Homo sapiens: one gene and its partners. The protein of the gene in region 2 purifies or fractionates together with the protein of the main gene of each other region. This does not show direct contact. Each region holds a gene or a part of one and is shown on either strand. Other genes may lie near its edges. The genes, in order: ACAT2, TNIK and CTTNBP2NL.

Region 1 (3,656 bases), on a different chromosome or scaffold from region 2:
TGAGAACAGGAGTAAAGATAGGTGAGATGCCACTGACTGACAGTATACTCTGTGATGGTCTTACAGATGCATTTCACAACTGTCATATGGGTATTACAGGTAAGGCAGACATGGCTGAAACTGTATTAGCTTTAAAAAGGTTAAAAAGACCATATACTAATCTGCTTCTTAGGTGCTTTCGTCCTTATGGCCAGAGACTGTCTTAAGGATTTTTATATCTCTTCTTTGATTAACTGAAGTGAAGTAAGTATTCTCTTCTTTGTGAACTCTTGATTATCAGAGAATGTTAGAAGTGGGAAGTACCTCAGAGTTCTTCTGGATCAACCCCTCATTTTACCAAATGAAGAAACAGGGCCCACAAATAGTGCTTCTGTGGCAGAGGTAGTGACAGAGATAAACCAGTTGTTTTTTTGGTACCTAGCTGTACTTTTTGTACTACACAATTGGGTTATTGGTCATTCATGCTGAAGGGTCCTGTGGTCTAAGTTTAATGGCAAAGCAACTGGGAAATCAAAAGCACTCTTGTCTTTAGTATACATGTAAAACTTAAGAAACAGAATAGACATTTTAGAGTTAAAGAATCAAACCCTGAGAAGTTAAGCACCTTGCTCAAATGCATGCAGCAATGGCTCTGGTTTTATGTAACACATAAATATGTGAAAAAGGTAATGGGGAAAAGTACAAGATTCCAAGAGGGAACTGTGTGCATGAATGCTAGGAAGGAAGGAAGGGCTTAGGGATATGGGAAGCAATGAGAAGCTCAAGGCATCTTGACCACTTCTCGACTTACAGCCACAACAGAGAAGGCTATAAAAACACAGGCAGACAATGGAAGACACTGTGTGACCAACTGCCTCAACCATAACTAGAGGTGGTCATTAAAAATTCAGATCCCGAGCCCTTTCCAAGGTGTACTGTGGATTGAATGGTACTCTTCCAGCCTCCAGAACTGTAAGAAAATAAATTGCTCTTCTTTAGAAAAAAAGAAAAGAAAAAAGGCTCAGGTCATGATGGAGTAATTGACAAAGATTAGATTTCCTACTATAAACAAGCATAAAACTTGTGAAAATATATAAAGCCACTGTTTTATGTATGTCAGGTTTTGACTAATACTCATGTAAGACTGAGATCCTTGAGAGAAGGGAAAACCCCACTGTCACTGTCTCTACCCAGGGCACTTCCCAAACTGTGTTATGGAGAGGCAGAGCCTAAGCTGGAAACAGTGGTCTCAGTGATCTGAAGAAGCAGAGAATTTGGGGCTTCTGAGATGGCTGGAGTTTGTGGGGCAGAATAAGGGGGAGAAGAAAAAAAGAGCTCCAGAAATCTGCAAAAGGTTCCCCTTAAGTCTTTGATCAAATACTAAGCTTGTAGATAACAGCTTACAAGGCCTAGTAGAAAAGAGCTGCAAAGGAGAGGTGAACTGGAGATTTTATAGATTACTAGGAGATAAAAGTTCTGGACAAGCGAGTGGAAACCTTACTGAACTCCTTGGACACTCCATTGACATCTCAGAAAGACCACAGTTTAGGGGTAGGGCCAAAGCCATAGAGTAAAAGCTACTCTAGACCCAAACTAATAAGCTTAAAAACAAGCCTCAAAAGGATCAAGGTGATTTGCCAGTATTTTGACTGCTTGTGGAAACAAAACTCAATATATTCTCTAAAGATAATAAAATCTCTATGTCCAGTTATGTAGCAACTATAATGTTCAGCATGCAATGAGAACTTTCTAGATACACAAAGAATTAGGAAAATATAGCTTACAACCAGGGTGGAAAAAAACCACAACAGTCAACAGACCCTGCAATACTAGAATTATCAGATGAGGATCTTAAAGGCTCTATTTTACATATGTTTAAAGATACAAAGGAAAATATAATCTTCATAGAGGAATAGATGTGGACATCTCAGGAGTAAAAGGAAAAAATATAAACAAGAACCAAATAGAAATTCTAGAACTTGCAAAGTACACAATCTGAAATTAAGAATTCACTGGGATGGGGCCGGGCATGGTGGCTCGCACCTGTAATCCCAGCACCTTGGGAGGCTGAGGTGGGAGGATCACTTGAGGCTGGGGGTTTGAGACTAGGCTGAGCAACATAGTTAGACCTCATCTCTAAAAAAAAAGAAAAAAAAATTCTGAATGGCCTTAACAGCATCTTGGAGACAGAAGAAAAAGGGTCAGGAAGTTTGAAGATAGATCATATACACGACCTGAAGAACACAGAGAAAAATAATGAAGAATAAATGAACAGGCCAGGCACGGTAGCTCACGCTTGTAATCCCAGCACTTTGGGAGGCCAAGCCGGGTAGATCATCTGAGGTCAGGAGTTCAAGACCAGCCTGGCCAACATGGGGAAACCCTGTCTCTACTAAAAATACAAAAATGAGCTGGATGTGGTGGCCCATGCCTGTAATCCCAACTACTTGGGAGGCTGAGGCAGAAGAATAGCTTGAACCCAGGAGGTGGAGGTTGCAGCAAGCTGAGATCACACCATTGCGCTCCAGCCTGGGTAACAAACAAAACTCTGTCTCAAAAAATTAAATTAAATTAAATTAAATTAAAAAATAGGCCAGGTGTGGTGGCTCATGCCTGTAATCCCAGCACTTTGGGAGGTCAATGCAGGCAGATCACCTGAGGTCGGGAGTTTGAGACCCACATGACCAACATGGAGAAACTCCATCTCTACTAAAAATACAAAATTAGCCAGGCTGGTGGCGCATGCCTGTAATCCCAGCTACTCGGGAGGCTGAGGCAGGAGAATCGCTTGAACCTGGGAGGCGGAGGTTGCGTTGAGCTGAGATCACGCCATTGCACTCCAGCCTGAGCAACAAGAATGAAACTCCGTCTCAAAAAAATAAAATATAAATGAACAGAGCCTTGGTGGTCTGCAGGACAAAATAAATAGGACTAGCATGCATGGAATAGGAATCTCATACATAAGGAAGAGAGAGAATGGGGCAGAAAAAAACTGAAGAAAATTTCCACATTTGGTGTGAAAAGAAGTTCAAAGACCAAGATAGACAAGGGAAAAATTACACCTTAGCAAATTGTAGCAAAAAGTTAAAAAAAGATCATGCCACTGCACTCCAGTCTGGGCAACAGAGTGAGACTCTGTCTCAAAAAAAAAAAAAACAAGAGTGAAAGTGAAGAGCCATTTTTAGATGAAGGAAAATGAATTGCCTGCACACCTACACTACAAGAAATACTAAAGGAGCCAGGCATGGTGGTATGTGCCTGTAGTCCCACCTACTCAAGAGCTGAGGCAAGAGATTGCTTGAGTCCAAGAGTTTGAGTCTAGCCTGGGCAATGCTATCATAGTCTACTATGATTGCACCTGTGAGTATCTACTGCATTCCAGTCTGGTTAACATAGTGACACAACAACAACAACAACAACAAAAGAATAGCTTCCAGCCGGGCGCGGTGGCTCACGCCTGTAATCCTAGCACTTTGGGAGGCCGAGGCGGGCGGATCATGAGGTCAGGAGATTGAGACCATCCTGGCTAACACGGTGAAACCCCATCTCTACTAAAACTACAAAAAATTAGCCAGGTGTTGCAGCAGGTGCCTGTAGTCCCAGCTACTCTGGAGGCCAAGGGAGGAGACTTGCTTGAACCTAAGAGGCGGAGGTTGCAGTAAGCTGAGATATTGCAC
Region 2 (3,656 bases):
TTCACAGTGGAGCACAGGCTATCTTCAGTGTGTTCCGTACATACAAGCAACTTTATAACCATCTTTGTATCCATACTTTGTTAGACTGGTTTTTGTGTTGTGGGAATGACTGATTCACTAAGATGTCCAGGATGTTGGCAATCCAGTTGAGGGACGTGGTATAACGGGACCCAGCACTGCATTCGAATTTCATCCTTGGACAAGACAAGTAACTTCTCTGACCCCAAATTTCTACCTACAAAAGAGGTAAATTGGATCACCAATCACCAAGCCCTAGGCAGACAGATAGATAAGTAGATATATAGACAAAGATATGCAAACACAATCCCCCTTTACTTTTCATTTTAGCCTTAACATGGTTTTATGGCTTTATCCTATTTATGCCTTTTATCAGAAGGTGCCACAACTTACTTTTTGGAGGTATGAGGTGTAATAAATAAATAAGATCCCTTTTAAATGAATGAATTAATTGCATTCACACAATTGATATTTATTCAATCAACATTTATCATGTGCCAGACACAGTTCAAAGCACCAGGAATGTGGTGCTGAACATGCAGGCAAGATCCCTATTCTCACAAAACTTATTAGGCTCCAGTTGGGACAGCCAGATTTTTAAAAAATTCAGATAGTCACGACTGCCTTAAAGATAATAAAGCACTGAATTGGACAGTTTCAGGGTGGAAGGGAGTGTTACTTTACAGATATATTGCAAAGAAAGCCTCTCTGTTTAGTAGGGAGCCTCTAAGAGGGCCCTCAGTGACTTCTGCCTTCTGGTGTTAGTTAATATTCTTGTGTAGTCCCCTTCGAAATGAATAGGGCTGACTTGGGTAGCCAACAGGGTATTGCAGAAATGATGGTGTGTGATTTCCAAGGCTAGGTCATAAAAGACATAGTGGCTTCTGCTCTGCTTTCTTGATTCCTCTATCTGGTAAAAGTGGGCACGATGTTATGAGGATGCTCAAGCAACCAATGGAGCCACCTACGTGGGGAGGAACTGAGGCCTCCTGCCAACATCCAGCACCACATAAGTAAATCATCTTGGAAAGAGATCCTCCAGCTCCAGTCAAGCCTTCAGAAGATAGCTCACCTTGCCAAAATCTTCCTGCAACCTCAGGAGATACCTCATGCTAAAACCACCCAGGTAAGCCACTTCTGAATTCCTGGCCCACAGAAACTGTGAGATATAATAAATGGTTATTGTTGTTTAGGCCACTAAGCTTGAGGGTAGTCTGCTATGCAGATACATAAGTAATAATACAGGCAGCATCTCACCTTAGACCTAAATAATAAGATGGAGCCCTCCATGTGAAATTTCTGACACGGAGAACTACAAGAATGAGCTTGGCATATTCACAAAACAGAAAAAAATCAGTGTGGCTAGAGTGTAGTAAAAGACAAGTGCAGGCTCTCTTCTCCATCCAACCATGGGTGTAGAAACCATGCCAATGTTGTCTTCAGCTCAGCCCCAGCAACTAGTAGCACCCAATAATCAGGTACTGAATGAATATATACACAAACAAATAAATGAATGAATGCTGGATACCATGTGCATTTCTTCCCCTACAGTTAATCACATTTCACAGAATCACAGAATACTGGGCCTGAATTTACCCTGCACCCAAACTTGCACCTTCTAATACACTAATCAAACAAATGTTTGTAACATATGCAATGTATTGTTAAAGTCTACAAATTTCCTACTTGATGCATACTGCCAAGGTTCTAATTTCACTAACTAGAGAGACAGCACTTTAAAATCTAGGGTTACTTCAGAGTCTAAATCCGGGTATCCAGCAGCAACACTGTAAGGGAGTACCCAGCGGAAGTCACAGTCAGCCCTTCGTCCTATCACTCGGTCTTCAAAAACTAGAACAACACTTTAAATTATAAATCAGAATCTGACAGCTGGAAAAAAATAGCTCATTTAAAAATTAGAAAGGGATGTTACGTTCAGTGGCAATTCCCAGCTCATTGAGGTGCACAGTTTGCAATCTCTTGGTATCTCCAACAGATAGAATAAGAATCCATGGCTATTTAAATGCCCTCAGTCCTGCCTCTAGTTCCCTTACATATTCCAGGAATATGCATCCCAGCAATACAAATTGCTGGAAGTCACCTCCAGCAATTTCTAGTCCAAACCACTCATCTTACATGTGACAAAACTGAAGCTTAGAGGGCAAGGTGTCAGAGCCAGCTTTATGACGCTGGGCTCTAACTCCCAGCTGTGTGCCTCATTAAACCTCACCATCTCCCAAACTCTCTCTACCCGCTCACTGCCAGCTCTGTCAAGATAAAAACTCAACGTTGTCTTCCAGTGGGCCACCCCAGAAGCACACCCTTTCCCGCCCATCTATTACTGTTTAATCAAAACAGCAGTCATAAGTATTATCCGATTGTTGAAATAATTGAAACACACTCCAAACACACACACACACACACACACACACACACACACACACACACATACGCCTTGCAATTCTAACCCATGGTATTTTAAATCTCTCAAAACTTAGAATAAGACAATGGAGAGAACACTTTCCTTGGCAGAAAAATTCTAGAAATAGGAATACCTACCCAGGACCAGGCATAGTATTTCTCGTAATTGGTGCCCCCGGAATTGTACTCTATGTAATTAGCATCCACTGGAATTGTACTCTACATAAAAAGTGTCCCCAGGAGTCATGCAACCTAGACTATAATGTAATTCATGATCCCTGAAATTGTGCCATGGTCAGCAACAGGCCCCACCTTTCTGAGGTTTCTATACTCTCTCTACATAGCACCACCTCCAGCCCTTCTAAAAGGGTTGCACAGTATATATTTTGTTAATTCAAAATTTATTTGTTGAACGAACGCCTGCTGTGTAAAGAAAACTGGTGAGGATCCCTAAGAAAATCAAACGTTGCCTCTAAAAAGGAATTGTCTAGTAGTGAATATAATCCAAGACAGAAAGTTCTGAGTGTTATGAAAGAGGTGTGAGGTCAGTTCTGAGACAGTCTATGAGTGGGAGGGACAACTTGAGAGAAATCAGAGACTTCTGTGGAAAAGGTGGTCTGCGAATGTTCAGCGTTGGGGCAGTAGGTACAGAAAGGAGACTAAGACAGAGCGCCCCCTACAGAGCATCCATGGGGGAATGAAATTGTTCCCTGCCGCAATGGGGGAGTGGTCGTCAAAACTGCAGAGCTCGGTGGGAGGCCCCTCTGAATTGCCGCTGGTCTTAACATGCTAAAGAGTTTAGTTTTCAGTCTGTAGACTAAGGAGACAGAGAAGGCCTTGAATAAAAACAACCAGATTGAAACTGTGCGTTTGGAAGACTCACGTGGCTACAGTGTACGAGAAACCAGTCAGAAGAAGGCTGGTGGTAGAGACACAGGAGGAGGGGAGGTCCTGTTGCGGGTGTTGCCCAGGGGACAGTAACTACAGCACTTGCAGGGAACAGTGGAGACAAGGGGACCCATATGATAAACATTAAGGGAAGAATTTTAAGTTGGGGTGATATAAAATGTGTTTTGAGAAACTGAGGGCACCCCCATGAGACAACCAGGACATGTAAAAAAGAGTGGATAGAATCATGTTTCTCTAAAGGGAAATAAGCTTCCAACCAGACTGGAAGGAATCACAAGCGGAATTCATCCAACATTTTCTACTTAAGT
Region 3 (3,382 bases), on a different chromosome or scaffold from region 2:
TCAGAATCGCCAGGGGAGGAGCCTGGGAATCTGCTCCTCCCCAGAGACTCTCATTTGGGAAATACTGGTAGTGAAAGAACAAAGCACTAAGGTTTAAATCCTGGCTGTCATATGCTAAGGGCCCTTGCACAGATCTCTGGCCCTCAACTACCTCATCACTACACTGGGGATAATAATACCTCACAGCACCCGTGTGAGGATTAATAAGGTAATATGTATGTGAAATCATTAGCATGGTGCTTGGTACTCAAGTAGGCACTCTTGACTCTGAATATCACTGACATTCTGCCAAACCAGTTTCAGGAGCTTAAGACATTTCCTTAGGTCAGAGGCAAATAGCAAGTTGTTGTGAAAGAACAGGTAAGGGCTATGAAGGACTGTTTCTCAAAACAGACTAGCTGCATCAGCTAGTCTGAGGATCTAATCTCCAGAAATCTTTATTTTAGCAGGCTTCCCAGGTTATACTTACGCACAGTAAAGTTTGAGAACCACTACTCCAGTCTCCTTTCCCCTCCTTTATTTTTACTAATGAATTGGCCACTGATACACAAATGGTGGGTGGACAGGCTCTCATTTCTCAACTAGTTTTATAGAAATTAAATTAAAAATTATTCCTGTGGAACAATGCTCATTGCCCACTTCTGATTCATTAGGAAAACACATCCTATTTTGAAGCCAGTGTTTTGAAAGACAGTTGAAGTTCCATTTCAAGGACTAAGCATCAGAAGCACTCCTTATGAATTCACACACACACACACATACACACACACACACACAAATTGACAAGGCAGCACTGCTGACAGGCTATTAAGGGAAACCGGATATGCTAGTATTTGTTGAAATGATCATTAATTTGCTTAAATGCTGAAAACTTCAGATATGTAAACATCCACACTATTTGAACATTTTTTAGACATCAAAGGATTTTCAAGTGCTTCTCTCTGGCTTGCATTTGCTAACATTGCAGCAGCAACAGCGCTGGAGTAGTTGAAAAGGGATGCATTAATCATTTGTAAAATGAGAGAGCAGAACAAGATTATGCTTTCTTAAGCAGAAATACATGAGCCATGGATGGCTTCAGGGTCTTTGGATCCTATGAAGCCATCAAACAAATTTTGCATATAGGCATATTCATTTTTCTAGGGATAAACTCCATGGCTTTTCTAAGATTCTCAAAAAGGTCCAGAACCACCAAAAGGTTTAAAAAATCACAGACTGGATTATTGTAAAGGCTTTTTCCAGCTCTAAGACTCTAAAGAAAATCAATGTCTTAGTTCCTTATGGAGTCTAACCTGGATGGGTCATTGACTTCATTTGTTTTGTCAAAGCCACAGTCAAGTGCTCCCTCTACACCACCCCCTCTTCCCAACAAAATATGCCCAAATTGTGCCATTTTTCACTTTGTACAAACAAGACTATTTCCCCCCAAACAGCAAGATTTAACTTGTTTTAATGCAGTCTGCTATAAAAATGAAGACTTCTGCATGGTATATTTGGCTTTACAAACGTTAATGCCTAGTTAATGCTTGTGTTATATGGTACACATCATTACAATCTGTTGGCCAGTAACAGCTTTTGCAACATGGGTTAATACTAAAATTGTGAATCATGGAACTTTTACTTAGCACACACACACACAATCTACAGCAAACTTAAATACTAATCTATAATACCTAACTGGGTTATTGGATCCATTGCAAGATTGTGCTTATTTATCTCAGAAGGTAGGCAACTAGCAAAAATACACATTTCTTTCGCATATCCCCACCCCCATATTACACTGTAAAAGAAATACATTATTCAGTGCACTTCCTAAGAAATAAACTTCCTTATAGTATCTCTCTCTATATATATCTATCCCAAAACAAAGGAAGAGCACAATGCAACTTTTAAGATTACCATTTAAAGCAAAAGAGACAATAACTCTCTGGCACTGTAGCCTCCTCTCCAGTTTAGAAAGTTTAGCTATTTTATCAACACTATTCGTTTTGGCTCTGCATAGGAATAAAGTTCAATGCATGATTGCCTTGGACAGTTTAAGATACCCCCTACATCATTTTGATAGACACCTTGGGGCATTAGTAGCATTTTTATTTTTCATGTATTTGCCTTTATCAAACTATAAGCTGTGGAGTTGCCAATATACTCCATTGTGATTTATACACTGATTTCCATCACCTGCCTTTTTACTATCAACTCTTATTAGATTAAAAGGAAATAGACTTAAATTATAGCAGGAGGTCAGGGCTGCTGGATAGATGTTGGCTCAGAGAATGTATGTGAAGACACCAAGGCCTCTCCTGTATGGACACAAAATCATATAACCACTGTGTCTGAGCTGGGTTGTGGATAGTCTTATTTGGCAGAGGGGGATAGCCATTATATTCTATGAACCTTGCCAGCTGTACTGGCCTACACAGTTGGAAAGTTTGGAGGCTTTTGTCCGCATAGACTTGCTATGATGAAAATGACAGAAGTTTCTAGAATGAAAGAGGTTGCAACTTGGCAGCTTGCAAGCTAAATCCAGCTGCAGACGTGTTTGTTTAACCAGCACCATTTAAACATTTTAAAATCACTTCTTGATATTTAAAAATGAGAATGTTTCTCATGAAAATTTGGATTTCAAAAAATGTGAAGAACTGGTAATCCTGGTTTAGCATTCTTGCACCGCAGCAAGCAGATGGAGCTGAACAGATGCCCTTTTTAAATGCGGCTTGGGCACTTTAGTTTGCCACAGCTCCCACTGCTCCCAGCTGTTTTACATCGCTTGTGTGAGAGGCCTGTTTCACTCATTTATATGACCAGTTGAGTTTTGTGACACTGGGGTTAGTTTAGCTCTGCCTATTTATTTTTTTAATAGAGATGGGGTCTCACTATGTTGATGAGGCTGGTCTTGAACACCTGGTCTCAAGAGATCCTCCCATCTCAGCCTCCCAAAGTGATAAGATTACAGGCATGAGCCACTGTGCCTGGCCAGCTCTGCCTTTTTATGATACTGAAGATCTAGGCTTCATTTGGAATTTCCTCACCTTCCTGTGGACAAAATTCCTCCTTTGATTGTGTCCCAGCCACATCTAGTTGCTTCGGTAGGTAATCTTAATGTGCAGTTCTACTTGTCCTTTATGCTATATTGCAAACTCCAAAGATATAATCACACTAGTATTTATGTGTTTAAGTGTGTGTATGTTAAACATGTAAAGGGGTAATGTATCTATACAGATATATGTATACTTCCCATTTAAGCAAAAGTTAATTTGGTTTTACAGATACAGATACCAGGTTCTGGCAGCTTGGAGAATAAGTGTAACAATTTGGTAAAACTTGTATAATTCTGACTGACCTATAATATTACAGAGTGAATTTCAAGTTATTGCTTTTTGAT

The links.
Region 1: the proteins of TNIK (region 2) and ACAT2 purify together in Homo sapiens (co-immunoprecipitation; one large-scale study listed by IntAct). This does not show direct contact.
Region 3: the proteins of TNIK (region 2) and CTTNBP2NL purify together in Homo sapiens (affinity purification with mass spectrometry; 2 studies listed by BioGRID and IntAct, with this or other methods). This does not show direct contact.

Annotation. Positions count from the first base shown.
Region 1 is NC_000006.12:159,768,530-159,772,185, forward strand, and holds part of ACAT2 (acetyl-CoA acetyltransferase, cytosolic), read left to right. Parts: coding exon 1-99; intron 100-3,656. UniProt on the Homo sapiens protein: Involved in the biosynthetic pathway of cholesterol.
Region 2 is NC_000003.12:171,450,306-171,453,961, forward strand, and holds part of TNIK (TRAF2 and NCK-interacting protein kinase), read right to left. Parts: intron 236-3,656; exon of another isoform or gene 1-235. UniProt on the Homo sapiens protein: Serine/threonine kinase that acts as an essential activator of the Wnt signaling pathway. Recruited to promoters of Wnt target genes and required to activate their expression. May act by phosphorylating TCF4/TCF7L2.
Region 3 is NC_000001.11:112,458,283-112,461,664, reverse strand, and holds the end of CTTNBP2NL (CTTNBP2 N-terminal-like protein), read right to left. Parts: 3' UTR 501-3,382; downstream 1-500. UniProt on the Homo sapiens protein: Regulates lamellipodial actin dynamics in a CTTN-dependent manner. Associates with core striatin-interacting phosphatase and kinase (STRIPAK) complex to form CTTNBP2NL-STRIPAK complexes.